2 separate regions of the Homo sapiens genome follow, and region 2 is linked to region 1. Evidence: fine-mapped expression QTL. A gene starts in region 1. The other region holds a variant in brackets. All regions are shown on one strand. Distances are between the middles of the regions.

The links.
Region 2: its variant is fine-mapped to the expression of SYCP2L in cerebellum (GTEx, PIP above 0.99). The same link has a PIP of 0.9 or more in cerebellar hemisphere, nucleus accumbens and prefrontal cortex.

The regions. Positions count from the first base shown.
Region 1 is chr6:10,880,619-10,896,207 of GRCh38, forward strand. SYCP2L (synaptonemal complex protein 2 like) reads left to right here and starts at 6,434. Exons shown (of 30, transcript NM_001040274.3): 1 at 6,434-6,517; 2 at 10,895-10,963; 3 at 13,249-13,386; 4 at 13,467-13,586. The coding sequence starts at 6,509. It overlaps GCM2 (glial cells missing transcription factor 2), which reads right to left and starts at 1,423. Exons shown (of 5, transcript NM_004752.4): 1 at 1,086-1,423. The coding sequence starts at 1,175. RefSeq lists a silencer at 1,318-1,612 and an enhancer at 5,601-6,369.
Region 2 is chr6:10,823,010-10,838,598 of GRCh38, forward strand. It overlaps MAK (male germ cell associated kinase), which reads right to left and starts at 15,530. Exons shown (of 15, transcript NM_001242957.3): 1 at 15,494-15,530; 2 at 7,539-7,868. The coding sequence starts at 7,639. The variant C/T (reference allele first, on the strand shown) is at 6,077.

The DNA.
Region 1 (15,589 bases):
CAAACCACCCACTTCATTCACCACTTCATCCACCCCAGTCATTCTTTGGACTTGGCTCCAAACCATTTTTGCTTTATTGAAATAAAGCAAAATACAACAAATTCACCCTAAAAGAATGATGATTTGCTTGTCATTAGAGAAGAAGTAAGTTTTGGGTACAGGTGGCCTTGTTGGCATGACTATGGGGCCTCCTTCCTCTGAGCAGTTAGGGAGGTCTGAGCAAATTGCTCAAGTCGGGCTACTTGTTTTAAATTTAGGTCATTAGATTCACTTTACAGTTGTACCTCAGTTTTGCTGCATGAGAAGCAGTGGTATTTACATCTGCTTAGATTTTCTCCTTAGCTTCCTCATGGATTTAAAGTAAATGAATAAGGAGAGAGGCACCTAATTTCTACCTTGGTTAAAGGGAAGTGAAAGGACAGGCGTCCCGCTCTCCCCAAGACTGGGAATGTGGAGCCTGACCAACATTTCCTGCTGCTTTGCTTGTGATTTCAGGCAAGCACAAGGAAATTGCTGGGAGAAGACACATTTCTTCTTCTTCTTCTTCTTCTTTTTTTGAGATGGAGTTTTGCTCTTGTTGCCCAGGCTGGAGTTCAATGGCGTGATCTTGGCTCACCGCAACCTCTGCCTCTCGGGTTCAAGCGATTCTCCTGCCTCAGCCTCCCGAGTAGCTGCGACTTTAGGCATGCGCCACCACGCTGGGCTGATTTTGTATTTTTGGTAGAGACGGGGTTTCTCCATGTTGGTCAGGCTGGTCTTGAACTCCCGACCTCAGATGATCCACCCGCCTCAGCCTCCCAAAGTGCTGGGATTACAGGTATGAACCACAGCGCCCGGCCAAGAAGACACATTTCTAAACCCAACTCAGCCTTTTGTAGAGTCCAGTTTTCTTTCTACACTTGAGAGGGCCTCAGAAACCCAGAAATTTTGCGGGTATGTGTGTGTGTGTGTGTGTGTGTGTGTGTGTGTGTGTGTGTGTGTGTGTGTGTATGGTCCGTCCGCAGACTCTTCAAGAACTCGAATGCCATTCTCCCTCCTTCGGATGGACAGCGCCCCGCGTGCCCGCACACACCCGGTTCACTTACCTGAGGCATCTGCGGATCGTTGATGTCCCAGCTGAGCTGCATCCCGTAGGAGCACACGCCGACCGCTTCCTGCACCGCGGCCGCCGGCATCTGCCCAACTCGCTCGCGCTTTCCGCCCAGGGTTCTGAAAAATAGAAGAAAAAAGGACAGGTGCGCCAGGTGGGTTTTTTTTCTTCTCTTTAAAGAAGAAAGTGGGGTGTGTGAAGGGGAGGTGCAGAGAGAGAGAAAGAGAGAGAGGCTGTTTAGATATCTGGAAGCTGGGGACAATGGTTATGGACCCGGGCGGGGCCTTGTCCTTGGCCGCGGTGCTGAACGTTCTCCACCCGAACGGCAGCATCGACCTCTGGCAGCTGCCCCCTCCTTTATAAAGATATACCTCCGGGGGGCTCCGCCCTGTCTCGCCTACCTCGCTAGCGCCCACGCTCCAGGGGCCGGTCGCCCCCTCCACCACAGTCCCAGGAACGGAGGTGGAGGTTAAACTCAGCCCTGGAAGCAAATGGAAACTGCAGCCAGAGGGTGGGGGTGGAGAGGGTAAGTAGGAATGTATCCTTTAAGTTTAAAACCTTATTATTTTCTTCTTTTCTTTTCTTCTTTTTTGTCTCACTCTGTTGCCCAGGCTAGAGTGCAGTGGCGCCATCTCAGCTAACTGCAACCTCTGCCTCCCAGGTTCAAGCGATTCTCCTGCCTCAACCTCCCGAGTAGCTGGGAATACAGGTCCGTGCCACCACCCTGGCTAATTTTTGTATTTTTAGTAGAGACAGGTTTTAGCCATGCGAAACCCTGACCAAGCTGGTCTTGAACTCCTGACGATCTGCCCGCCTGGGCCTCCCAAAGTGCTGGGATTACAGGCGTGAGCAACCGCGACCGGCCTATTTTTTTTCTTTTTTCTAAACGCGTCCAGCTTCCCTGATTTCGGAAAGGGGCTTAGATGGAGGCTTTCCAGCAAAGTCCCCTGAGAGCCAACACTCAATTCCAGGAGAGCATGGGAACCGTGCGTGGGCCCCTCTGCCGTCCGCGTGCGCCCTAGCCTGAATAACCGCGCCCACGCCTCCTAGTTAGGGGTCAGCCCATTTTGGGCCTCCACTGCCGGCTCTTCCCCTAACTATTGTGAGTGTCTCGCAGTCTTGGCTCTGCTGTTTGGGACGTGCCAGGGTGCGCCAAGCCTCCGCGTATGCTCGCGAGCCCAGGCGCCTTCACGCTCCCGGGGACTTCGGAGGGACCTGGCCCTGCAGGAACGGAGTCCTACAAAGTGAACCTGGAGGAGGTGGGGGGCGGAAATGAGCCCGGGGTAGGTGGGAGCCTGGGGTAGGTGGGAGCCTGGGGAAGGAGGGAAAGGGGAGAGGGGAAAAGTCCCAAAGAACTCGCTTTCTCCACTGCTTTGGCTCCCTCTGGGTCTCAGCTTCCTTATCTGTTTATCTGTTAAATAAGAGGTTGTGGTTCGGCGAGCTCTCAGTTGCCACCCACCCGAACACAAATCTTTTTTTTTTTTTTTTTTTTTGAGACGGAGTCTCACTCTGTCTTCCCGGCTGGAGTGCAGTGGCGCAATCTCGGCTCACTGCAACCTCCGCCTCCCAGGTTCAAACGATTCTCCTGCCTCAGCCTCCCGAGTAGCTGGAACTACAGGCGCGCCATCGCGACCAGCTAATTTTGTATTGTTAGTAGAGACAGGGTTTTACCAAGTTGGCCAGGATGGTCTCGATTTTTTGACTTCGTGATCCTCCTGTCTCGGCCTCTCAAAGTGCTGGGATTAAAGGCGTGAGCCACCGCGCCCGGCCCACAACTCTTAAAAAAAAACTTCACTGATATAGTCTTGGAAATATCACGACGAAATTGAATTTACTCCATTACAGTCTTGGGAGGCTTTGGAGGACTAGAGAATCGCGGTGGTGCGGAGGTGCGCAGGACAATGTGGGTTCTCCGGGGCTGGGACGAAACCTTCATCATCTGAGCAGCCGACTCGCCCAGGGCTACTCCGGCACATGGAGACCCTCAGTATATATATATATAAAAAAAACAAAAAACAAAAAACAAACAAAACAAAACAAAACCGATTGAAGTGACTAAAGTCACTCTTTGACTACCCCAAGGCCGGATTCTTGGCGGCCAGGGGAAAGGGCTTCTGGAATTTATTGCCCGCGTCCTTGTTTTGCAGCTGCACGCTTCCATTCCCAGCCCCAGCCAGAGAAGAGGAGCCAACTCCTCACGGCAGATCCCTTGATAGAGGAGGATGAACCGAATCCATGACCCTCCAGACCCGGGAAGCGACGCACCCTAGGCCTTGGCACCGCAAAGCCCGTGCTGAGCGCACGGACGGGTGCTGCCCGGGACTCGGCCAGGAGGGCGCCCATGCCAACGCCTCTTGCAGGATTAGTGCCTTCGGTTGGCAAAAGGCGGATAAAGGAAGAGCGAAACCACATCAGGAAGCTAAGGGTGGTCCACGCTCCCTGTCCTTTTACTTCCCGCGCCAAAGGCACAGTGAGGCTTGCTTAGAAAAGTCCATCCCGCGATTGGGCGCAGTGGCTCATGCCTGTAATCCCAGCACTTTGGGAGGCCGAGACGGGAGGATCGCTTGAGCCCAGGAGTGCAAGACCAGACTGGGCAACATGGCGAAACCCTGTCTCTTCGAAAAAAAAAAAAAAAAAAAAAGCCGGGCATGGTGGCGTGTGCCTGTAGTCCCAGCTACTTGGGAGGCTGAGGCGGGAGGATCGCTTGAATCCAGGAGGCAGTGGTTGCAGTAACCTGAGATAGCGCCGAGCCTGGGCGACAGAACGAGACCCTGTCTCAAAAAAAAAAAAAAAAAAAAGGAAGGAAAGAAAGACAGAAAGAAAGAGAGAGAGAGAGAGGAAGGAAGCAAGGAAGGAGAAAGAAAAGAAAAAGAAAAAAAAAAGAAAAGGAAAGAAGAAAGAAAAAGTATCCCAGTCGGTCAGAGAAGCCTGCCAGTGGCAGCGGACCAGCGAACTCTGTTGGGAAGAAAGGCCAACTTCGAGCAGTTCCTCGCGATTTTTTCCTCCTTTATCTTCTAGCTGGGGTCCTCCTCCCAGTCAAAGCCGAAGGGTCCTAGCAGAAGAAAGTGATTTGTTCATTCCCAGCCTCCTTTCTCCCGAAGTTCTCCCCTCCTAAAAGGTCCTGTCAGTCAAGGTTTCTGATTAAAATCACTCTCAAATGGTCGCCACTGAGGTCTAGCTGGGAACGAAGAGATCTGTCTACTCTTCACCCACGAGTTTCATTCACAGATTTTTCATCTTATTAACTGTCTGCCAAAGGTCCCCGAAACTCCTGTTGATTCAGTTGCTTTTCGTGTTGTTTTGTCTTCCAAAATTGAATGAAAATTTATTGATTATCCATTTTAATTATAGTATTTCATTAAATGTTGTAGTCTAAGATAACTTATCCTTTCAAATGTTCTAAAAATAACTTTAAAATGGTGATTTAAAGTTACCTCTGAAAATGCATAGAAATTAATTTTTGGTCTTATTGCAGTGCTAGAATAGTTCTTGTCTCTGTGCTTTTGGAATGTTCCTAGAGAGACCTGACCCGTCAAAAACATAAATAAATAAAACTTTTTTATGTAAAAGGCAAATCAATTAATTTCTAAAGGGATTCTGGTATCCAAAGAAATGTCATAGAGCCTCTACTATATTTAGTTTGAGAAGAATTAGAGTATGCATTTCAAGTTGCCATAAATTATATTAAGACAAAACATGTTAGTAAAAGAAGCTAATCAAAGTAAAAAAAAAACCAGATAAAAGGTATTTTGCCTATTCTGTTATTTTTAATTTCTCTTAAAGATTTGAATGCATTGCACCATAGACTTTGGAAGGACATGTTTTCCCCCAAAGCCTGAAAATAATAGATGATTAAGTTTTCTATCTAATATTATGAAAACTCTAATTTTTAAATATTCTCTTAAAATTCATTTAAACTGTAGTATTTTGTTTATTGCTTCTTATTATTCATTGTTTCTTTCTTGCCCTGGTATTATATTTGTATTGACTCACAATAGCTTATACTCACAGCTGTTCCTGTCTTGATTACTAGTTTAATATTACAAAAGTCCATTCATTGAAAAGGAAAAAAACTTGCGTTTGAATTTCCTTGGTTTAGATTAAAATAGGTAAATTAATGTAAGAATGTTTACATTATACTTTCCAGGAAATTGATATGACAGGCTTTGACATAAACATTGTTTTGAACGGACTAGAAATGTGTGCAAGTCCTGGGCTAACAGGGGTTCTGGTTTTGTTATGTTTTGCTTTGGTGTAGACAAATATCTTCCGTACATATTATGACTTGAAATACTCACAGGTCTAGTTATAATACAAGTTGATTTTTACACAAAGGATGTTTGGATTGGAGGGGTCTTTTTTTTGTTTTTTGTGGAAAACTCTAGTCCAATTTAATTTTGCCACCGTGTTCACACAACTGGCCACCTATCCGAATCAGCCTAGCCATTGGTACGCATACTTGTCAGGTTAAAGGAAATAGGCAAACAAAGAAACAAAAAAACAAAAACAAAAACAAAACTATTTGCTTTGATTAAAAAAAAAAATTCCCCTTCCTCCCCACCACGGTACTTAAAAAACAACCACCAAACACACTTTGTGTGTGTGTGAAATCAGGAATGTATTAATAATATCGGGTACAAGTCTGGTTACCATAGGAAAGGGTTCGGCTTCTGTCTGCACACATCAATGGACCAAAAACTGCTCCTCTGGCTGTTTTTTTTTTGAGACGGAGTCTCACTCTGTCCCCCAGGCTGGAGTGCAGTGGCGAGATCTCCGCTCACTGCAACCTCCGCCTCCCGGGTTCAAGTGATTCTCCTGCCTCAGCCTCCCCAACAGCTAGGATTACAGGCACGTGCACCGCGCCCGGCTAATTTTTTGTATTTTTAGTAGAGACAAGGTTTCACCATGTTGACCAGACTGGTCTTGAACTCCTGACCTCAAGTGATCCACCAGCCTCGGCCACCCAAAGTGCTGGGATTACAGGCGTGAGCCACCGCGCCTGGCCGCCCCTCTGGCTTTTTAAGGCGGGGCAAAAACTTGGAACAGCTACCACAAAGCGAACGCCTATCTGTTTGGAATTTCGCAAATAAGGAACGTTTAAATGACGTAGTTCACATCCTTTGAGTGCTGGCTTTCTCTTAAAGGGTGAGTGCGTGCGCCCAGGTGGTTTGGCCTGTGTGCGCTAGTTACTTGCACGCGCTTCTTGAGTCTCAAAACACAGAGCTCTAGTAAACTTCAGGGGGCGGATTCGTCAATTACAGTTGCGGAAGAAGACTCGACTCGAAGAGCGGTCCGCCACCAGGGCTCTTTCGGCAGCGCCCCCAGCGGGCGGGGCTCTTGGGCGGGGAAGCAGGAGAGGGCCGACCGAGCGCAACAAAGCTGAGCGGCGCGTCGCTTCAGGAACGAAGAAGCCTCGTTATGCAAGCGGTGAGTGACCCCCGAAGGGCCCGGACCTTCTGTCCACAGTGCTAGGGCGCGCGAGGGCGCGGGGTCCCTGGGGCTCAGGTTCTGCCGCCTTGAGGTGTTCGCTCAGAGACCGGGTGCTGGGCATAGTCCCCCGCCACCTCCTTGGGTTTGCTCGGAGTGTATTGGCAGCCTGCGGGGAGACCAGGCAGAATAGAAACCTCGGATCCCTAGCTAAATAGCGCTCAGGGAAAGGGGAACCGGAGAATTCGTGTTCGGAAAGCAATGAGATAGTTCTTTTCTAGTTGCTTTGCGTATTTTCCTAGCCGGTTTTCCAGCCCTCTTTCCACCTTGCTGCGTAGAAAGTGCAGAAGTGTTAAGCAACCCCAAGTGCTGGGACTTCATTTAACCGAACGACAAAGGACAGCCCCTAAGATAAAGCTACAATTATTACTTATCAATAAATAATAAAAAAAAACACATGAAGTTTGAGCCCACCCAGGGACGCCAAAAACAACAAACAAAAACCACCTGGGGCGTGTTTCTAACATTCTTCTGCCTGGGTTCCTGGTGGTAGAAATTCTGATGTAATTGGTCTACGGTGGGCCGGTAGTTTGTTAGTTTGTTAGTGAGGACGCCAGGTGATTCTGATAGCCAGGGGTAACTGCTTGCCTAGATCCAGGAACTCACTCTTGTTCTCCATAAAATCCATCTGTCATCTGGCGCCATCTTCCCAGCCATGGGGAAACAGATTTGGGACAGAAACCTTTCTAACATCAAGCTACGCTTAAATTCAGAGCACTTAAGCATAACCTCCTCACCCTCTCCATCCCTGTTACATTGAAAGCTGCCATTCACTGAGCCATTTTTATGTGCCCAGGCACTATGCTAAGAACATTACAGACATTCTGTCAGTCAGTCCTCACTCCAATCCTTCCATATAGGTGTTACCATCTTTTTTTTTTTTTTTTTTTTTTTTTTTTTTTTTTTTTTTTTTTTTTTTGAGACGGAGTCTCATTCTGTCGCCCAGGCTGGAGTGCAGTGGCGTGATCTTGGCTCACTGCAACCTCTGCCTCCCGGGTTCAAGCGATTCTCCTACCTCAGCCTCCCGAGTAGCTGAGACTACAGGCGCGCGCCACCACGCCAGGGTAATTTTTGTATTTCTAGTAGAGACGGGGTTTCACCATGTTGGCCAGGATGGTCTCTGTCTCTTGACCTCATGATCTGCCCGCTTCGGCCTCCCAAAGTGCTGGGATTACAGGCGTGAGCCACAGCGCCCGGCTATCATCATGTTTTTTAAATGAGGAGACTGAATCTCAGAGAATCTAACGATCTTTTCTGCCTAAACCATCCCACTTTCTGATTTTCCTGTCAGGTTCCTACCCACAAAAGCTGCCACATGATCTTCACAGAAGGGGGATACCTTTCTGTGTACTAGAGTGGCTCCAGAAATTCCAGAAACAGGAAGCATTTCTTTGGAATTTGCAAAGTACTGACCACCAAGGCCAGAGAAGGTTGAAAGGAGGTAGAAATAAAAATAAGCAGAGCATCTCTGCATACGAATTGAACTGAAGGAGAGATAGGGCCGTGTCTATAGAGAAAAGAGGTAAAGAAGCTTAACATAAAGGCTCCCGGGAATATTTTCTTTGGGATGGGAAGTATTTCCCACTAATTCAGAATTTGTTGACAAAACTTAGAAATTATAGATACGTAGCATAGTGTTTATTTGATGTCAGTTTATGCTATGAATTAACACCCTTTTTTTTTTGATACGGAGTCTCACTCTGTCACCCAGGCTGGAGCGCAGTGGCTGGATCTCGGCTCACTGCAACCTCCACCTCCTGGGTTCGAGTGATTCTCCTTCCTCAGCCTCACGAGTAGCTGGGTCTACAGTCACGTGCCACTGCGCCCAGCTAATTTTTGTATTTTTTAGTAGAGACGGGTTTCACCATATTGGACAGGCTGGTCTCGAACTCCTGACCTCATGATATGCCCGCCTTGGCCTCCCAAAGTGCTGGGATTACAGGCGTGAGCCACTGCGCCTGGCCTAACACCCAATTTTAATTGTAGCTTTAGCTGTTCCTCCTATCTCACTTTTGCCTCTACTCAATTATCCACTAACACAATGGTTCTTTTTCTTTGCCTTTATCATTTATTTTTAATTGACACATATATTAATTGACACATAGTAATTGCACATGTTAATTGGGTGTAGTGTGATATTTCCATATGTGTATACAGTGTGTAATGATCAAATCAGGGTAATTATGCATATCCATCACCTCAAATATTTATTTCTTTGTGTTGGGAATGTTCAAAATCTACTCGTATAGCTATTTGAAAATATACAATAAGTTGTACATTATAGTCACCTTGCAGTACTATCTTACTCTAGAACTTACTCCTTCCAGCTAGCTGTAATTTTGTGTTCATTAACTAACCTCTGCCTATCTCACTTCCTCTTTTCTAGTGACCACTATTCTCTCTACTTCTATGAGATCAGCCTTTTTTTTTTTTTTTTTTTTTGAGATGGAGTTTCACTCTTGCTTCCCCAGCTGGAGTGCAATAGTGCAACCTTAGCTCATTGCAACCTCCGCGTCCCGGGTTCAAGCGATTCTCTTGCTTCAGCCTCCCCCGTAGCTGGGATTACAGGCATGCGCCACCCTGCCCGGATAATTTTCTATTTTTAGTAGAGACAGGGTTTTGTCATGTTGGCCAGGCTGGTCTCCAACTCCTGACCTCAGGTGATCCACCCACCTCGGCCACCCAAAGTGCTGGGATTACAGGCATGAGCCACCGCACCCGGCCGAGATCAGCTTTTTTAGCCTCTACATGTGATCAAGAACATGCAGTGTGTCTGTCTGTGCCCCGCTTATTTCATTTAGCATAATGTCCTTCAGGCTCATGCATGTTACCATGAATGACAGGATTTTGTTCTTTTTTCTGGCTGAAAAGTATTCCACTGTGTGAATATACCACATTTTCTTTATCCATTCATCCACTGATGGACACTTAAGTTGATTCCATATCTTGGCTATTATGAATAGCGCTGCAGTAAACATGGGAGTGCAGATATGCCTTTGACATACTGATTTCTTTTCTTTTGGATATATCTCCAGGAGTGGAATTGCTGGATTTATGATAGTTTTTTGAGGAACCTCCATACTGTTTTCCATATTGTCTATACTAATTTACATTCCTACCAACAGTGTACAAGAGTTCCTCTTTTTCCATATCCTTGCCAGCATTTGTTGTTTTTTGTCTTGATAATGGCCATTCTAACTGGGGTAAGATAATATCTCATTTTGGTTTTGATTTGCATTTTCCAATGATTAGTGATGTTGAGTATTTTTTCATATACCTGTTGGTCATTTGTATGTCTTCTTTGGAGAGATGTCTATTTAGCTTATTTACCCATTTTTAATTGGATTGGTTATTTTGCTGTTGAGGTGTTTGAGTTCCCTGTATATTCTAGATATTAATGGCTTGTTGGATGCATAGTTTGCAAATATATTCTCCCATTCTGCTGGTTGTCTCTTCACTCTATTATTTCCCTTTCTGTAAGAAGCTTTTTGGTCTGTATAATTTCATTTGTCTATTTTTGCTTTCATTGCCTGTGATTTTGAGGTTTTCTCCATAAAATCTTTGCCCAGACCAATGTCCTAAAGTGTTTCCCCTATATTTTATTCTAGTAGTTTGGGATCTTAAGTGTAAGCTTTTAGTTTATTTTGAGTTGATTTTTGTATATGGTGAGACATGGGATCTGGTTTCATTCTTCCACATATAAATATCCAGTTTTCCCAGCACCAGTTATTGAAGAGACTGTCTTTTCCCCATGAATGTTCTTGACACCTTTGTCAAAAATCAGTTGGCTATAAAAAAGTAGATTTATTTTGGGTTTATCTATTCTGTTCCATTGGTCTACATATGTGTCTGTTTTTATGCCAGTACCATGCTGTTTTGTTCCTATAACTTTGTAGTATATTTTGAAGTCAGGTACTATGATGCCTTAAAGACACTTTTATTTAACTTTATTTTACAAGCTCTCATTCTGAAAATGGTTTATTAGTTCAAAGCCTTTTTACTTCTACTTTATAATCATCATTATAGAGTTTGTTTATTTTGTGTGATTATTTATTCAAATGATGTTTGCTTTGCTTCTTCTGATAGTTTGTACTGTATTTGTCTTAGACCATGCTAAAGAAGGTTGGATAAAGTTTTTCTCTTTTTTCTAAGTACTATTTTACTTAGACCTATAATATGAGCAAACAAAAATTTCTGTTCAGGAAAACAATACAAACCTTTAATTTTTTTTTTTTTTTTTTTTGCTTTGTGTTTAAAACTTGAAATGCATTTCTTTGAAATAAAAATTGTTTAAAAACATGTTTTTATTCCACACAGAAAAACAAAGATGCTTTGCAGCCTATTAAGGAAGACAGGACTGGGAAGGCCCAGGATGATGCTTTCTGGGTAAAGATCAAGTTTCTTTTATAATCTCTCTCTGTGTGTGTGTGTGTGTGTGTGTGTGTGTGTGTGTGTGTGTGTGTGTGTGTATGTGTATATGAGTGTATGTATTCTTTCTAGTTCTGTGTTCCCTGGGTCATTAGCAAACTTGTTCCTCCAGTTGCTCAAATCAGAAGCAGAGAAATCTTTACTTCTCCTTCCCTAATCTCTCATGTCCAATTTATTACTATATCTAGTCAATTTACCATTAGCTATCTTACCAATATCCTAGTCTAAACTATCTTGTGCCCTGTGCAGATATCTTGTGCCCTAAATGCAGATAGATGATACTGAACAAACTAGAAACAACGTCTGCCTTTATGGAGCTTATAGACTGGCAGAGAGCCAAAGAAGCAGGAAGAAAAAGAACAGGGTAATGAGATGGGGAATAATTGGGAATGTTGAGGAGGCACCTGGTCTACGTAAGATAAGGTGGTCCTGGAAGATCTACCTGAAAAAGTGATGCTTAAGCTGTGATCTGAGTGGAACCAGCCATGTGGAAAGTGGTGGGGTGAAGTAGCCCAGGCCTAGAACAGCCAGTTCAAAGGCCCCGAGGCAAGGAAGAGCTTGACTTATCCTAGGACTCATTAGCAAGGAGGTCAGACTGTCAGAGATCAGATCATGCCACGTTCTGCGGACTAAAGCAAAGGATTTTGGGTTTATTTTTAATGCAGAGGAAGCCATGGCAAAGTTTTGTTTTGTTTTAACGGGATCTCACTCTGTTACCCCAGCTGGAGTGCAGTGGTACAATCATGGCTTACTGCAGCCTTGACCTCCTGGGCTCAAGTGATCCTCCTGCCTCAGCCTTCTGAGTAGCTGTGACTACAGCCATGAACCACCACACCTGGCTAGTTTTTCATTTTTTGTAGAGACTGGGTCTCAATATATTGCCCAGGCTGATGTCAAACTTCTGGGCTTAAGCGATCCTCTTGCCTTGGCCTCCTAAAGTGCTGGGATTACAGGCGTGAGCCCTGCGCCTGGTAATGGCAGAGTTTTAAGCAGGTAAAAGGGAGTGAATTTCAGCTGAGCAATCTCACATAAGTTTGTAACCTTTCCTATCCTTGCTACTTGTATCCTGAGATAAAGAACCTAACCTCTCAGGACCGTGGTAAGGATTAAATAATAACATCTGCAGAACACTTAACACACTTGGCACAAAAAAGCTCACTATGTGTTAACTTAAAAAAGAAAACATTCTGTTTAAATGGAATAATTTTAAATGCTGTTTTCCCTTTTAATTCAGTACTAAGAATAAGTGGAATTGTGGGCTGTATATAGTAAATTGCTTCCTTATTAAAATAGTATTGTATATTTAACCTGTAAGATTTTTTTAAAGATAAAAAATCTTTTATAGTTTAAATGTTTAAGGAAATGTCTGTTATTCAAGTATATATACTTTTTTTTTTTTTTGAGACAGAGTTTTGCTCTTGTTGCACAGGCTGGAGTGCAGTGGTGCGATCTCGACTCACCGCAACCTCCGTCCTAGGTTCAAGCGATTCTCCTGCCTCAGCCTTCCAAGTATTACAGGCATGCGCCACCACGTCTGGCTAATTTTGTATTGTTGGTAGAGATGGGATTGCTCCATGTTGGTCAGGCTGGTCTCGAACTCCTGACCTCAGGTGATTCGCCTGCCTTGGCCTCCCAAAGTGCTGGGATTACAGGCGTGCGCCACTGCACCCGGCCCTTCAAGTATATGTACTTAGAAGCATGTCTTAGCTAATGTGCAGGCAGAAAAGATGAATTTCATTCATTATGGTCAATTTGCATACTTATTATCTATAATTATTAGTATTATTTTTCTTCCTTCTATTATGATCATTTATGTCACTTAGTGAGTGATCATAGGCTTGAAATTTTTAGTGTTTTAGAATTCCCAACATTGCTGAGGATCTTCACCTAATGATATCTGAAACTGAAGTGTTGTTTTCCTTGGGTCAGTGGTTCCCAGACTTCAGCATGCACGAGAATCACGTGAAAGGCTCTGCCCTGAGTGTGAGTGCTAAGAAGTCCCCAGGTGATGCCAGCGCTGTTGGTGGTCTAGGAACCACATTTTGGGAACTCTTGTCTTAAACCAACGGAAACATCAATCATTTGTGAAATGATTGTTTACTATTCAAGATAGAGATCTCCATTCTATATTTACCCTATATTATTTCACACTGAATTCTTATTGATAATGAGATCAGTTAGAAAATTACTATAAAATAAATGTTCTTGGGGAAAAAGTAATTTGCAAACTATCATCTTTCCAGCTTCAATCACTTATTACGGATGCATTCCATGATAAAGGATTTCAGAAAATAAAAGAATACTTTCAACAGAAAGAGAGCCACTTTCCTCAAAAATATAATCGTCTTCTATTATACCGTCTTGACAGATCAATAAATAAGGCAAGTTGGTTTGCTTTGTGACCAAAATACAAATGTATAATTATTTATAAGTGTTTTAACTTAGTGTGGTTTATACCTAGGAACTAGATAAAAATGAATTTCAGTCTGTGTCACTGTTGCTGAAATGTATTCAGCGATTCCTCGTAGATGGCCTGAAAGAAGATGAACCTCTGCTAATTCGGCAGGGACTGATCCCAAAGATAAGTGTCCTATTTTAATTTTATATGGCTTTGGGTAACTTAGAGAACTTAGGTGGATTTAGTTGTCTAGTTAAGTTTGGTATTTTCTGTTCCTTTGAAATCCAATTTGAAAAGAAATTGATATCCATTCTTATTGCTTCTGTCTAACCAAAAATTAAATTCGACATACATTTCCTGATGTACCTGCTATAGAAGGCACTTTGGGAGTGCACAGGATCGAGTCAGACACAACCACTGCCCTTGTTGAGCCTATGCAGTAATTATTATTTTAAATTATTTTAGTGAATTTGGGGGAAAATGAGTAGGAGTAGGCTCTAGAACTATTTTAATAGACTTTATTAACAAGATTAGACCTAGAAAAATGATCGTCAAAAACTTTTCTTTGCCCTTGTAACACCTCACTTTATCCATTTTCTAAACCTTGGATGAATCTGAAAAAACAAATAGCAGAAACATTTTTGCTTATTCAAAGTTACCCAAATTATCAGCTTTTATTCTTTTAAAAATAATAACCAAGAGATAACATGGCGAGTGCCTTTATAACGGCATCTGGAAGTAAAGCAGAATCTGCAACATCTCTTGCTGCAGTTCCGCTCTTTTAGTGGTGAGGTTTTTGCAGCCCAGAGGCAAGTTTGTTTATTGACGAGGAGATGTGGGGAAGAAGTAGGGTGGAAGGATCATCTGGCTGCTAATAATGTCTTTGATTTACCCCTTGAGCTCCAGTACCAGAAGTTTATTGAGGCCAGATTGGGCCAAGATCTGTCTTTGCCCTTTGTTACTCTAAAATGCGTCTAATTATGAAGCTACCCCCTCAGGAGAGAAAGCAAACTCCAGGCTTTCCCAGACTCCTCTCAGGGACTTTAAAGTGTTTGCAGGGGGAATTAAGGACTGTGTTTATGCAAACCGTATATATTTCGTTCTGCATATAACCCCACTTGACCTGTTGATACGCCAACTTCTGCAGATAACAGGAAGCAGGGGAAAGGAGATAAAAATCTCAAAGGAAATGAGGCAGAGATGTCCTAAGTGTACCTTGGAACCCTAAGCTGACCTTTTGGGGTATGAATAGGACTTCTTCTGCGCAGAGGGGTACCTCCTTGGCCAGTTGCCATGAGAGCACACCTGAACAAAGGGGCACGAGGGCCTTTATTCCTGACGCAAGTCCTGCCCCTGTACCCTTTCCCCATTGGCCGGGGTCGGGTCGTACAATCTAATTCCGGTTGGCTAAACATTTCCTTTTTTTCTTTTTAGATAGGGTGGGCATGTAAGAGAAAGTGGAGAGGAAGGGGAAGGGGTGTCTGTAATGAGCTAGAAAGTTAGTCCTCTTTTCAAATAAGGAAAGGAATGTGAGCTGGTACTGATAACGCTTGCTACCGTGGCGTGCCTGGGCATCTAACAAAGGCAAAAAGGAGAAAGGAGAACAAAAGGGGGGGGTACTATGAATTAGAGAATAAAAGATTGATCAGATTATTCGAAGAGAAACCTCATCATATTCCACATCTCGAACTCCCAACCTCAGATGATTCCCCTGCCTCGGCCTCCCAAAGTGCTGGGATTACAGGCGTGAGCTCCCGCGCCTGGCCAACTCTATACTTCTAAAGACAACTGTGTTTGCAGACTGAACACAAAGTGTGCTCGGAAGTTCTTCTACTACATAGAATAAGAATTCCTGGCACGGCGGCTCACGCCTGTAATCCCAGCACTTTGGGAGGTTGAGGTGGGCAGATCACCTGAGGTCAGGGGTTCAAGACCAGCCTTGCCAACATGGTGAAACCCTGTCTCTATTAAAAATACAAAAATTAGCTGGGCAGTGGTGGCACATGCCTGTAATCCCAGCTACTTGGGAAACTGAGGCAGGAGAATTGCTTAAGCTGGAGGTTGTGGTGAGCCAAGATGGTGTCACTGCACTCCAGTCTGCGTGACAGAGTGAGACCCTGTCTCCAAAACAAAACAAGCCCTACAGAAAGGAACATCTTTAGTCCTGTACCGTAAAATCCAGGAGG
Region 2 (15,589 bases), 58 kb before region 1:
CTAACCATTCCCCCTCCAACACATCCTAGCCAGTTTTGACTGCATTTCTAGACCGCTCAAAAGGTTTGCCTGCTGAATTAAGCACAGACTTTCTTCTCCATGTTTACATTAGCAGATTACACCACCCTGTCCATCATCTACCAACTGCCATGCCATGCCCTTGCTTCTTCAGGCCAACTCCCAAAAGCAGAGGGCCAGCATTCAGCTTCTTCTCTGCTTCTCAACGTAATTCTGAACTTGTTTACTTCCTACTTGTTAAATTCCATATGGAACTTGTTAAATTCCATATCTAATAACACATGGAACTTGTTAAATTCCATAGCTGAACTTCTCTAATTCCAATAGAAACCCCCACTCCCAGCCCCCGACACCGGCTCTTTTGTTTAAAAGGTTTTTAGAATGAAAACACCTTCCAGGTAATCAATTTCCCTTTAAGGGGACATGTTTACTGCCCACTCTGAAAATTAAGAATAGGCAGCTCTTCTTCAGCTACTCCACAAAATGTATTCAATGTAGAACGTATTTATTTATTTATTTAGAGACAGAGTCTCACTCTGTTGCCTGGGCTGGAATGCAGTGGTGTGATCTCAGCTCACTGCAACCTCCGCCTCCTGGGTTCAAGTGATTCTCCTGCTTCAGCCTCCTGAGTTGCTGGGATTACAGGCACACACGACCACACCCGGCTAATTTTTGTATTTTTAGTAGAGATGGGATTTCACCTTGTTGGCCAGGCTGGTCTCAAACTCCTGACCTCAGGTGATCCACCCCACTTGGCCTCCCAAAGTGCTGGGATTACAGGCATCAGCCACCACACCCGGCCTGGAATTTATTTTTAATTTTAGGGGAAAAGTATCGATGGATCTTAAAGCGGTATCTAACAAGTTATACCTAGAATATTTATAGCCTAAATTGGAAATGCCTAAAATTTTATATCACCAAGCAAAAGATTGATAGGATATTATGGGATGTGAATTGTTTTGGTAACAAACAAAAAAAAAAAATGAGAAGGGAGAATGAAGACTCTAATATCTGTAATTTTCAGGTAAAGTTTATCCCTCTATATCGGGCTTTAAAGAGATGGCAAAGCCTGCTTGTATGACTCTTGTAGATAACAATCACTGTCTCATTCAGACTTGAGGAGTAACGGCTATAGTGAATATTCAATGTAGGTTAAACTGATAACCCTGCCAGTAGCCTGGCTTCACAGTTGCTTAACTCCTAAGAGATGTTCACCTCTGTCTTACCACAGTTACCATAAACTCCTTGTTATGAGGAATGGTCCTACTGTCCAAGACCTAACAACCTAACTTCAGACTCTTGATCATAACCTCCTATCCTTTTCACCGTCGCTACCCTCAAAACTTCTTTATACAACCTCTTTCTTGTTCAACTTGTGGCTATTCCTACAACCACCTGTGTGGCGTGGTTTGCCTCCTCATCCAGCTTGGCCCCACCATCAGCCTTTCACCCACTACACTCTCAAGATCACACACACGTTCTGAACATCCCCTTCTCCCACCGTTCCACTGCTCCTGCCTTGTCATCCTCCAGTCTCCCCTCTCCTGCCTTGTCATCCTCCAGTCTCCCCTCTCCATACAGATGGGTGGAGGTGGAAAGCAAAGTCATGAAAATGCTCCCAGCGGCTCCACTTTCACATTCGTCCATGTAATTTCAGGCGGACTCTTCCTGACACTGGGCAACCCCTTTGTGGCTTTCTTAACAACTCAGTAACTCATCCTTCACAACTCTCCAAAGCTCCATGCCTCCACTGCCGTACTTCCCGCTACTCCTTGTCCCACTGCAGTCTGGCTTCCACTATTCCACTGGAACAGTGCTCACCGTGGCCGCCAGTTATGTCATATTCCCCAAACCCAAGGAACACCACAGCCGATGATATTGTTGAAATATCACAAGGCCATTTCCAGCCCCTTTCCTTCTGCCTCCTAATATAGAGACTGGAAGAGTAAATACTCACTCTCTCAGCCTCCTTTGGAAGAGAGACCACGTGACCCAATACTAGCCAGTAAGATGTAAGGGGATGTCCTTGAGGACTTCTGGGGAAGAATTATCACTAGCTGATAAAAGATGAGAAGAGTTTGCTCGTATTATTCTGCCCTCTTCCCTCCTTGAACATGGACGTAATGCCTGGAGGTGAAGTAGCCATAAGGTGGTCATTAGGTGACACATTTGAGGACAAAAACAATGCTAACCGCTCAGCATGAAAATCATAGAAAACATCTGAATTTCTTGGGTACAATGTTGAGCCATTGAAAGAGCTCTGGAATCATCACACTCCAGACTTCTTGATACGTGCTTCTGCTTCTTTAGATCTTTCCCTTGGTTTCAGATATTTTCTACATTCTCCTGGTTTCTACCCTATTTCTCTGGTGGCTCCTCAGACTTTTTTGTAAGATCCTATTCCAGGGCCCATCCTTTATATGCCATGGTTTCTCGGTGCCCTAAATGAGGACCTCTTTTCTTCTCCCTCTAAAGAGTTTCAATTGCCATCTGTAGACTAACCATTCCAAATCATTAGCCTGCACCTCTGTTTTGAGATTTAAATGCAAATATTCAATTGACTAAAAGTCATCATGCCCCAGACTGAATTCAGCTTTACCCCTAAGCCTGTGATTTTCCCCTCCTTGACATGGTACATGGTACATGGCACCACCACTATACATTTAAGCCAGAATCCCAGGAGTTAGCCTGGACTCTTCCCCATTTTTTACTCCTCCCTCCACCCTCATGCCCAGTCACCAGTTTCTATAGAGCCTGCTTCCTACATGTCCCTTGACTGTATCCACTTACATCCATCCCCAAAGCTATTTTCCTGTCAGGCCACCACCACTTCTAACCAACATGACTGCACTGACCTTCTAACCTCTAACCAAGATGACTGTATTGACCTTCTAACTGGCCACCTGGTGTCCAGTCTTGACCTCTTCAATCGTCTCCACTCTTCTGCTAATCAGCCAGTTCCAAAAATTTGATCACATCAACAATTCTGCTGAAAATCCTTCATGACCTTCTAGTCTTCAAGATATACACGCTCCTTCATCTGGCTTCACGACTTCACCTGCTAGCCTCACGTCCCTCCTCTGCCCCACTCGTAATCCACGCTCCAGCCACCTACACTTCTTTCAGTTACTCAGCCCCAGTTAGGCCCTCACACACTCTCTCTCGCCTCCAGGGCTTCATACGTACTATTTCTTACTCCCTGGAGCATTTCCCCCCACCCCCCCTTTTAAAAAAATAATTTTCTCTCATTCTTGAGGTCTCAATGACTTGGGAAGACTTTTGTGATACTTCTCCAGTGTGGCTTATCTAGGCTCCCACAGGACCCAATATTCCCCCATCATAGGACTTAGCATACTTGATGTTGTAACTTCTTGAATCTGTTGGTCTTCCTGAGTATATTGTAAGACATCTATTTTGTCCCGATCATGAAATACAACAGGAGTTTAACAATTTTGTGCTAAATGAATTTTTCAATTTTCTTCAAGTCTTCCATGGGACTCCTCTTCTCATTCATTTTTGCTCCATCTTTGCCTAAGGTGGAGCACTGCCCAACACACAGTAGATACTGCATGTGGCAGACACACGGTAAGCTGAGTAGCTGAAAGCCCTCCTTCTCTACCTCTTCATTCACAGAGTCAGCTTTTACACAGGAATATAAAATGCTCAGCTAAGTAATCAGTTTCCCAGCCTCCCTGCAGCTAGGGGTGCCATGTGGTACACTTCTGATCAACGAGAAGAAACCCTATGCATTCTGGATGGGATGTGAGAAAGCTTTTGCTTTCCCAATTAAAAGAGTACAGTAGGCCGGGCACGGTGGCTCACGCCTGTAATCCCAGCACTTTGGGAGGCTGAGACTGGTGGATCACCTGAGGTCGGGAGTTCGAGACCAGCCTGACCAACATGGAGAAACCCCGTCTCTACTAAAAATGCAAAATTAGCCAGGCGTGGTGGTACATGCCTGTAATCCCAGCTACTCGGGAGGCTGAAGCAGAAGAATCGCTTGAACCCAGGAGGCAGAGGTTGTGGTGAGCTGAGATCGCGCCACTGCACTCCAGCCTGGCAACAGAGCAAGAATCCATCTCAAAACAAAACAAAACAAATACCATATTTTTGAAGGATAAAACAAATACCATATTTTTGCCACTCAGAAAAAAATGATGGACATTTTGTCATATAAAACCAGACAGTAATAACCATCTGTGGGACTGTACCCAAGACCCAACACCCCTTCTGATTCGCCTACCCTCCTCCCCAGAACCCATGGCTATCATGGATTTTGGGTGTATCTTTCCAGGCCTTTAAAAATATTTTTGTATATGGATGTATTTGTATATAATAAAGTATTTCTTTGTGTGAATTTACATAATCATTTAATCTACAAATGTGGGCTATTTCAGCTCATTTTGTCTAATAACACTCATTTCTTAGGTTTCTGTCTTATAGCAGTAGTAAGTATCCCCAATGCAATCCTAATCAGCAGGACTGCTAGCAGGCATTTGGGGTTTTCAAACAATTTGTACTGATATTACTTCTGATATTTCACATTAATATGAATTATATAGGTTTTCGTACTAATTCACATTAATATGAATTATGTAGGTTAGGGAAGTTTCTTTTTATTCCTATTTGCTAAGTTTTTGTTTTGTTTTACTTTTGTTTTTGTTTTTAGATAGGGTCTCACTAGGTCACCTAAGCTGAAGTACAGTAGTGGTGGCACTATCTTGGCTCACTGCAGCCTCGACCTCCTGGGCTCAAGCAATCCTCCCACCTCAGCCTCCCGAGTGGCTGGGACTATAGGTGAGCACCACGATGCCCAATTAATTTTTGTATTTTCTGTAGAGGTGGGGTTTCACCATGTTGCCAAGCTGGTCTCAAACTCCTGGGATCAAGCGATCCTCCTGCCTTGCCCTCCCAAAGTGCTGGGATTATAGGTGTGAGCCACTGCATTCAGCCAAGAGGCTTTATCATAAGTTTTTTAAGAAATCAATGTTTGTTTTTTTTAGTTCATCAAATCACAAATGAGCACTGAATTTTATTAAGCCTATTCAATTTATTTTTCATTTCCATTATTGTATATTATATATTTACTTATCTGATGATAATGACTATTTAAAAATATTTTATGAAGTTATTTCCTTGTACATGTAATGGTTTAGATCATAATATTTTAAAACATTTGCTAAAGTATTTAAATTTTAGTTTGTCATAATTTGGTTGATGTGGTAATGTGGAGATGCGTATCCCATGAGTACGGGACTGGTTCTGGTGGAAGTCAACTGCCATGTCCCGAGGCTATTCAAACAACCCTCTGGAAAGGCCCAAGGAAGGAGCCTCTGTAAAAGGGAATTGAGGTGCCTCTTGCCAACAGCCAGTACAAATATGCCAACCCTGTGAGTGAGTGTGATGGGTTCAACTGTGTCCCCCAAAACTCCTATATTGAAGTCCTAGCCCCCAGACTTTCACGGTGTGACAGTATCTGAAGATAGGGTCTTTAAAAAGGTAATTAAGTTTAAGTGAGGTCTTTCAGGTAGGCCCAAATCTGATATGACTGGTGTCCTTATAAGAGGAGCCTGGGCAACATGGCAAGACCCCATCACTCCAAAAAAATTTTTTAAAAATTAGCCACATGTTGTGGTACACGCCTACAGTCCCAACTACTCTGGAGGCTGAGGCAGGAGGATGGTTCAAGCCCAGGAGGCTGAGGCTATAGTGAGCTATGTTTGTACCACCGTACCTCAGCCTGGGCGACAGAATGGAACCCTGTCTTGAAAAAAAAGAGGGGGGAAATGTGGACACAGACATGCACAACGAGAAGATCATATAAAGACCTAGAGAGGATATGGCTGTCTACAAGCCAAGGAGAGAGGCCTCAGAAGAAACAACCAGCAGATACCTTGATGTTGCACTTCTTGCCTCCAGAACTGTGAGGAAATAAATCTCTGTTGTTTAAGCCAACCAGTCTGTGATACTTTGTTACAGCAGCCCTAGCAAACCAAGAGTGAGCCACCTTGGAAGTAGATCCTGCAGTCCCAGTCAAGCCTTCGGATGACTGAAACTT[C/T]GGCCAATTATCTGACTGCCATCAGAGAACCCAAGCCAGAACTACCCAGCTAAGCTACTTCTAAATTCCTGACCCACAGAAACTATGTGAATTAATAAATGTTTCTTCTTATTTTAAATCACTAAGCTTTGCAGGTATTTTGTTATGCAGCAATAGATAAACACAGTGGATTAAAAACAAACAAATTAACAACAATTCTATTTCATAAGTTCAGGAATATAACATATATCATTCAGAACTCAATTTGACATTATGAATACCATCTGATTTTGAGACCTTGTTTTAAAGAAATAATAAGCCCTACTCTGCACTCAACTTTAAATGTGAAAAACAGGTCAGGAATGGTGGCTCACACCTGTAATTCCAGCACTTTGGGAGGCCAAGGTGGGTAGCTTGCTTGAGCCTGGGAAGTCAGGACTGCAGTGAGCCATGATCACACCACTGCACGCCAGCCTGGGCAACAGAGTGAGACCCCCATCTCAAAAAACACAAACAAAAACGAAAACCAACAAATAAATTTGGAAGAACATTCCAAAGATCACCTGTAGTTTTGGTCCAAATGTATTATACATATAAAAAAGGAGGCACTCATATTTTTTGGTTTATCAGTGTAGCTGGACAAGCCAGACAGTTAAAGTAATATAGAAGAAAAACAGCAGAATTCCTCTTTGGCAATGTTCTTTTCCAAGAATGACATTCCACATGAGCCAGATGCTATTTGATCTAAACTAGACCTCTTTCTGTGCTCGTATATATTCTTTTTTTTTTTGAGATGGAGTCTCCTTCTGTCACCCAGGCTGGAGTGCAGTGGTGCAATCTCAGCTCACTGCAACCTCTGCCTCCCAGGTTGAAGCGATTCTCGTGCCTCAGCCTCCTGAGTAGCTGGGATTACATGTGTGCACCACCATGCCTGGCTAATTTTTGTATTTTTAGTAGAGACAGGGTTTCACCATGTTGGCCAAGCTGGTCTCAAACTCCTGACCTCAACCCAAAGTGCTGGGATTGCAGGCATGAGCCACCGCACACAGCCTGTGTGCACGTGTGTGTGTGTGTGTGTGTGTGTGTGTGTGTGCGTGTGCACGTATATATATATATTTTTAGACGGAGTCTCACTGTATCACCCAGGCTGGAGTGCGGTGGCGCGATCTCAGCTCACTGCAACTTCCACCTCCTGGGTTCAAGCAATTCTCCTGCCTCGGCCTCCTGAGTAGCTGGGATTACAGGCGCGTGCCACCATGCCTGGCTAAGTTTTGTATTTTTAGTAGAGACAGGGTTTCACCATGTTGGCCAGGCTGGTCTCAAACTCCTAACCTCATGATCCGCCCGCCTCGGCCTCCCAAAGTGCTGGGATTACAGGCATGAGCCACCGCGCTGGCCTGTGCTGGTATATATTCTTAAGCGAGGACAGGAAAATAAAGAGCAGAGTTTTCAAAGGTGAAGTTGGCAGTGTCACACACAGTACCTTTTGATGGCCACCAGCTCCCCGGATTCATTACTCTTGCCCATAAGCACACTCCCATACGTGCCGTCCCCCAACTGTCTCATGGTTGTGTATCGGTTCATCTTGGAAAAATAATGCAGCAGAAGTTGTTGATTGAAATGACTTCCTTGTTGAATATAAATTTGAACGCTTCTTAATTTTTATTTGCTTTTGTCCTCACACTGTTGTTGCTACACTGGTGACAGGTTTGTCATCATTAAATATAGTCTCTCCCCCAAGATTACAGAGGTTCATGAGATATAGCATGAAGGAATCGGGCAAGGAAACAACACTTCCATTCTTATAAACACCCTAAAGAAAGAAAACAAGGATATCATGAATTTTCATTAACAAGTCTCTTCAAAAATTGTACTGGCAACTTAGAGCAAAGGGAAAATTATAAATAATATAAATACTATTGTGTTAAATATTTGTCAGTAAGTCATTTGTCTATGTAAAATGAAGTTCACATATAACTCACTGGTAATACTCACTTGGTAAATGCCTCATTTACATGGTACTGTGCTATTTATGTTCAATAATGGCATAATGGCTTGTATGATTCCTTTTTTACTAAATATAATCTACATTATTCCAAATCAGACCTTGGAAAATTGATGTCTATATGATATCCATTCTTTGAATCAATTTTTGTATCATATTTAATTTGGCATATTGTTTAAAACTGTACTACTTGTAAATTTTCTGTGGAATATAAGTACCCCAATTGGGTAAGGTAAGTATAAAGCAAACTTTTGTTTCATATGAAAGGAATAGCATTATTTTAAAATTTCATATTCTATTTAAATAACATGCTACTTTATTTTACATCAAACTAAGAAAAATGTAAATACTAATTAGGATTTAGTGTCACACTAGGTTCATACAAAGAAATAAGAAACATAGCCGGGCGTGGTGGCTGATGCCTGTAATCCCAGTGATTTGAGAGGCCAAGGCAGGAGGATTGTAGAGGCCAGGAGTTCAAGACCAGCCTGGGCACCATATCATGCCCTTCTTTACAAAAACTAAAAAACTAGCTGGACTTGATGGCACGCTTGTAGTCCCAGCTACTTGGGAGGCTGAGGCACGAGGATTGCTTGAGCCCAGGAGTTCAAGGTTACAGTGAGCTATGATCACACCACTAAACTCCATCCTGGGTGACAGAGTAAGACTCTGTCTCTAAAGAAAAAAAAATTTTTTAATAAATAAAAAGGGAAGTAGAGCCTGAAGATGTGACTGAAATGTTGTAACCTCATAATCAAACTTGAATGAATGAGGAAGTGTTTCTTATGGATGAACAAAGAAACTGTTTTATTGAGATGGAATCTACTTCTGGTAGAGATGCTATTAACACTGCTGAAAAGACAAAAAAGAATTTTTTTCTTTTTTTGAGACAGAGTGAGACTCTGGTTGGAGTGCAGTGGCACAATCTTGGCTCACTGTAACCTCCGCCTCCCAGGTTCAAGTGATTTTTGTCCCTGAGTCCTCACCCCTGTCACCATCACTCCCCCAGTAGCTGGGATTACAGGTGCCCACCCCGACCCCCAGTAGCTGGGATTACAGGTGCGCACCACCACACCTGGCTAATTTTTGTATTTTTAGTAGAGATGGGGTTTCACCATGTTGGCCAAGCTGGTCTCGAACTCCTGGCCTCAGCGATCCGCCCGCCTCGGCGGGATTACAGGCATGAACCAGTGCCCAGTCAAGAACAAAGGATTTAGAATATTACATAAACTGAGTTGACAAAGCAGTGGCAGGATGTGAGAAGACTGACTTCAATTTTGAAAGAAGTTCTACTGTAAGTAAAATGCTATCAAACAGTCTCACATATTACAGAGAAATCTTTTATGAAAAGTCTGTCAATGTAGCAAATACCATTGTTGTCTCATTTTGAGAAATGGTTACAGCCATCTCAACCTTCAGCAGCCACCACCCTGATCGGTCAGCAGCCATCAACACAGAGGCAAAGCCCTCCACCAGCAAAAAGACTATGACTCACTGAAGGCTCAGATAATCAGCATTTTTTAGCAATAAGATTTTTTTTTTTGACAGCCTCCCATGTAGCTGGGACTATAGGCGCAAGCTACTACACCCAGCTATTTTTTGTAATTTTAGTAGAAACAGGGTTTCACCACGTTGGACAGGCTGGTCTCAAACTCCTGACCTCAAGTGATCCACCTGCCTCCACCTCCCGATGTGTTGGGATTACAGGTGTGAGCTACTGCTCCCGGCCACAATAAGATATTTTTAAATTAAGGTATGTATGTTATTTTTTCTAGACAAAATGCTATTGTATACTAAATAGACTACAGTATAATGTAAACATAATTTGCATATGTACTTTAAACCCAAAAACATGTGTGACTTGCTTTATTGCAATATTCACTTTATTGCCGTGGTCTGGAGCTAAACCCACAGTATCTCCGAGGTGTGTATGTAGTTTGTTTTAAAGTACCTTTTATGACTTAGTTCTTCATTCAAAGAATATTTTTCTCTCACTGGAGCACTTTCATTTAAATCATAGAAATTGCTCCTCTATTATTTGCAGGAATTTAAGACCAACAAGGGCACGTTATAGTTGTCAAAATACTTAAGATTTCCCAAAACAGCCTTTCCGGGAAAAGAAACATAAACATGAGCAGACATAAACGTGCAGAGCAGCACAGTAAAGTTATGTTGTTTCCTATTTACAGGAACGTATCTGTTCACAGAAAACTTGAGAAGAATCCTGTGGGGCTTTTAATAATACGGAGTGTGGGCTGGGCGCCCTGGCTCATCCCTGTAATCCCAACGCTTTGGGAGGCCAAGACGGGTGGATCACCTGAGGTCAGGTGTTTGAGACCAGCCTGACCAACGTGGTGAAACTTCATCTCTACTAAAAATACAGAAATTAGCTGGGTGTGGTGGCGCAGGCCTGTAGCCCTAGTTACTAAGGAGGCTGAGGTAGGAGAATCACTTGAACCTGGGAGGCGGAGGTTGCAGTGAGCCAAGATTGCACCACTGCACTCCCACCTGGGCAACAGTGCGAGACTCTGTCTCAAAATAATAATAATAATAATAATAATAATAATAATAGGGAGTACGTATTTAACATTTATCTTACTTCATGTAGGTAACAATCCCTTCAAAGGCACATATAAAATAATTTAGGCTAGCTAACTCCATGGCCAGGATCTTGAAAAAGAGAACATGACAGCAGATTCCATCTCTATTTAGGGGTTTCTTCCTTTTTGTCAGATTAAGCCCGAGCTAATAATCATAAGTACCAGCAAATGGTTCCCCATTTGCCTGAAAAAGAATAGTTTTGTAAGTCATTGTCACCTTATTCATAGACACTGATTCCAAATATTAAGGTGTTAATATAGAGAAAGGCAGTCTCTCTCTCTGCACGGTTCCTAATCAAAACATGAATTTGCTTTTCTTCATTTTGCCTTTATCTGTATAAGCAAATATAATTTGGAAAAATCTTTTGGGTTGTTTTGTTTTGTACTACGTTAAACAAAACATGGACTAAAATATATTTCTTCTCATTTAGGATTTTATTAAATCAGTATTTTGCAATTTATCACCAGCATATTCAATTGCTGTACACTCTTTTCTAGCTAGCCTATTTAAGGTGACATATATCTATCTCTTTTAGGAAATATGTGATCTCTAGGTTTACTGATTCTTTCTGATTAAGTAAGCATAAAGAGAATATATTTGCACAAAAGGCCATCATGTTCCTTATGACAGTAAGATCATAAAATAAAAACATGGAAGGATTAAATGACCTGTCTAGGATCAACTAGAGAATCAACGATGGAGTCAATCCAATAGTTGCATTTGGCTTGATGTTGTTGGTTTTTCAGGGTCGTCTCCAACTTCTAAACAAGCCATTCTTATGAACTGGTGCCAGCTCTTACTATCCCTAATGAGGCTAAAGAAATCATCCTCTTTGCTCCAAAACCACACAGACTAAGCTCCACAACTCAAGCCACCTACCCCAACCTCCACCTTAAGATTCCTAATGCAGCTCTTCACTCAAACACTAAGATATTGCTGACTACCTGGAAAGTGAAGTGGGACTACTCCATATCCTGACTAAACCCTAATGCTACATCTGGGTCATTCAGACCAGTGAAAAATAACAGAAACAGTGAAGGGAAAGAGTGAGACCTTAGAACTTGAATGGTTAAGGGAGAAAGAATCTAGGTGGTGCTCCTCTCATGAAAATTATTATTATTATTATTATTATTGTTTGAGACAGAGTCTCACTCTGTGCCAGGTCCGACCCGCAGACCCTGGCTGAATGACAGATCAAAGAATGCACTCAGACACAGGTATCCAGTGAAAGAGCGGGCTAGGGGACCGGGCAGCACACAGACCCCAGGAGGGTGCTGTAAACCGTGGCCCTGCTCAGCTGGCGCTGTGGGCATTTATTCAGCACAGATTTAATGACAAAGGCTTTGAGTTAACACACTTGTGGGTAATTAACATGGTCGCACCGCTCCCCCGCCCCACGCAGTCCTGCGTCTGGATGATTAAAGGCCAGGTTCTGAGGCCTAAGTAAACTAACTTATCTAGATTAGTTTCTTTACATCCCCTTGTTATCTAACCTAAGCTCTTAAGAGAATTCAGCTGCCTTCAGCCAAATTTTCTTTTGAAGCTTTGCAAACCCCTGGCCTTCCAAGAAGGTTTGCATCTTTCTACGATTTTTCCCACCACCCTGACCAATCTCCTACAGCTCGGATGCCCAGGCTGGAGTGTGGTGGCGTTATCTCTGCTCACTGCAACCTCCGCCTCCCAGGTTCAAGGGACTCTCCTGCCTCAGCCTCCTGAGTAGCTGGGATTACAGGCGCGTGCCACCATGCCCGGCTAATTTCTGTATTTTTAGTAGAGACAGGGTTTTACCACGTTGGCCAGGCTGGTCTTGAACTCCTGACCTCATGTGATCCACCTGCCTCGGCCTCCCAAAGTGCTGGGGTTTATAGGCGTGAGCCACTGCGCCCAGCCATGAAAATTATTTAATTCAGAAACATAATGGTATGATAGCATCATCTTTTCTTTTAACCAAATTATTTTCATGTTAACACCTAACCAAGGACAAGCATTTGAGGGTCTAAAAGGTAGAAAAGTAATGCAGACAATTCTGAAAAAGGACATATGACTTGAGAAGGGAATGGAAGAGGGAGCTGCCTCTGGTTGCATGGTAATGATGGTAGCGAGTGTTATTCAGGAAGTGGAAACACAAAGAGTGACAAAAAAATCACCTTCATTGGCCCAACAATCTAAAAATTAAGAATTAATTACACCTCTCTCTTCCACTATTAAGGCCATCAGCCACCCCCATCACCACCGCCCTGGGGTGGGAGGGTGACCTGAAGCTGCACCAGCACTATCAGCACAATAGAGCATTCAGTCACTGATGACTTTCGACCCAAGCCTGCGTGCACAGTCTCTTTGCGAGTGGCTATTTTGGCAACTTCATTCCAAGCCTAACCAATCAACTTCTGAATAAACACCGGCAACACCAATTGTCTTTCAACGGATGATGGCTATAGGATAGGGTGTACTTATATTGAGGGAAGAATAAGCAAGGAACACGACCATTTCCCAGCTCCTTTCTGTTTGAGGGGTGGAGTGTTGAGGATTACGGACGTGACATAGATTTTTAAAAGGTCAGATTAGTGGTTCTGTGAGGATCTGTCCCATTTAAGCCCTACCTAACCTTTAAGTAAAACAACTTTACATACTGCGCTCCCTAAGAAAAAACTTTGGAAAGGCTTCTTTTGAACTACATTAATTACAAAATCAACAGCTGCCCAGGGTGAGACGCTGATCATTGCAACTGTTCCTTCTATCCCCTGAACATACAATTGTCTAATGTAGAGACATAGACATCAAGGTAAAGCTTTTAAAAAATCATTATTCCATGTCCCTGCTCCCTGATAGCACATAAGCAACTACTTTTATCAATGTGGCATAGCAACTACTGATTACTAATCAAAAAGCAGTCTATGTTCCTTAAACACAGGCTTCCCATGGTTCTCCAGTTCACGCACAATAATATTTCTCTACAAGTTACATATATTCTTCTCTGTTGACCTATGGAAAACTAATCTACAAAATAGGAATATATTAACACAGTTTCTTATGTACATGAATATATATAGATATGATACATATGCAACAAAAAACCCAAGTAAATATAACTATCATCCTCAATTTAACAGAATTGTTAAAAACTTGGAATTTTCTACAATCAAGCTATAACATTTATTGACCTTCCTATGGGTTAAAGAAAAAGATGCTTATTTAGAGGCTTAATTATAGACCTACACAAAAATAAATACCCTTATAATTTATCTCTCATTCTAGTTTTCAACTTTTTAATCTAAGTTCATAATTACCGTTTCTCTAAGTGCACAATTGTTGTAAATATAGCCTTTACTCTCAACAGCTTTTGCCAGCTAATAAGAGATTCAGATAGGATTAAAGAAGATTAGCAAAGAGGGCAAATGAAGGGTAAAACAAGCGTCTGCCAAAAACTGAAGAGATAAGGCTTGGATGTCTTCAACGTGGCTTTCTAGAACATATTATGTCACTCCGAGGCTGGCTTAACGCTTCTAATACACAACAAAAGAGTAATTAACGTTTTAAAAGTCACCAAACTCTTTAAAAAGCAACGCAGGAAAAAAAGATCCCAAACTAACCAAGTCGAAGTTTTACAGAAATTAAATGAGCTATTACAATGGGAAAACAAAGACTGTATCTTAAAATATAAAAGCACAGTTCTCTGTGCTCATATTCACAAATTATTTCAAAGCTTATACACAAAAAAAGTCCACCCCGACGAAGAGATTAAACGTCCTGCCCGGTGCCTGCAGTGGAAGCAGGCGGTGGCGCGGTTGGGGGAACTTTCTCCCTCCCGGTCAAGCCTCGGGAATTGAAGGGCCGGGGAGGCGGGGCCCGATCGAAAAGCTGGAAAGTCACTTTTGTTTTCACCATTATTTCACTTAATGGGTTGTGTTTCTGAATAAATAAAGTCAGATAACTTTGGCTTCCCTCTTTGAGAATTCCGTTATCATTAGAACAAATGTCTGTTTCTTTTAAACGATTATCTAACCACATTTGCATACAGCTCTTTCCTTGTAGGATTGAGATTACTAACCACTAAAAACCAGTTTTATTGCTCTCGACACCGCACTCTCGACCTGTCCCTAAATTAAAACGGATTACTTGCAGAAAAGGGACAGTTTTCGTCACACACTTTCTGATCCGACTCTGCAAACCAGGGCTCTTAAAAGGCTCCAGGGACCGCGTGGTGGAAGGAGGGGGCGTCCCCGGGCGCCGGGAGTCCGGCGCCGTTGGGGGGGACGGGGGTGTGCGGAATTCCACTTTCACCTGAGCGTCCTTTGGGATGCACCAGCGAGGGCTGGAGTCGGACCTAATTCCTGTTTTTCTCCCTCCTTTTAGATTTTGCAACAGTTCTGAACTCAGTTCCGCTGCCTCCCTGAGACCCAATCCTGCCTCTCTGTCCTAAAAACAGTTTCCACCGCCAGCCCAAGCAGCAGGGGAGCAGAGGTGGGAGATCCCGGAGGAGAGTTTAGGGGCGGGGGTCTCAGGCTAAGGGACGCCCGGCCGTCATCCTCCCACGCCAGGCCGGCCCCCGCGGTCCAGGAGGCGGGAAAGTGGTCAAGAGGTCTGGGAGACACCGACCGCCTTCCCTCGGGCTGACCACTCCCGCCCGCTCCGCCCCTCCGGGGACCCTCCTCCCTCCAGTCCTTCCCCTACCGGCGTCAGGGACCGGTCTCCGGGCGGAGATTGGCCCTGGTAGCACAGGGCGCCGAGGGGACATGCCCGGCCAGCCTCGCAGGTCGGGCTCCGGCTGGGTCGGACAGAGGGTGGTGGCCCTGCAGCCCGCTGGGGATTACCTGTCCGCGCCTGCTGCTTACCTCGTTCGCTCCCTTGTGAAGCTCCGGCGTCTTGTGTGTTTCATCTCCTAGGAAACGGCGGGGGCAGCAGGCGGGCCTACGGCCGGCCCAGAGAGG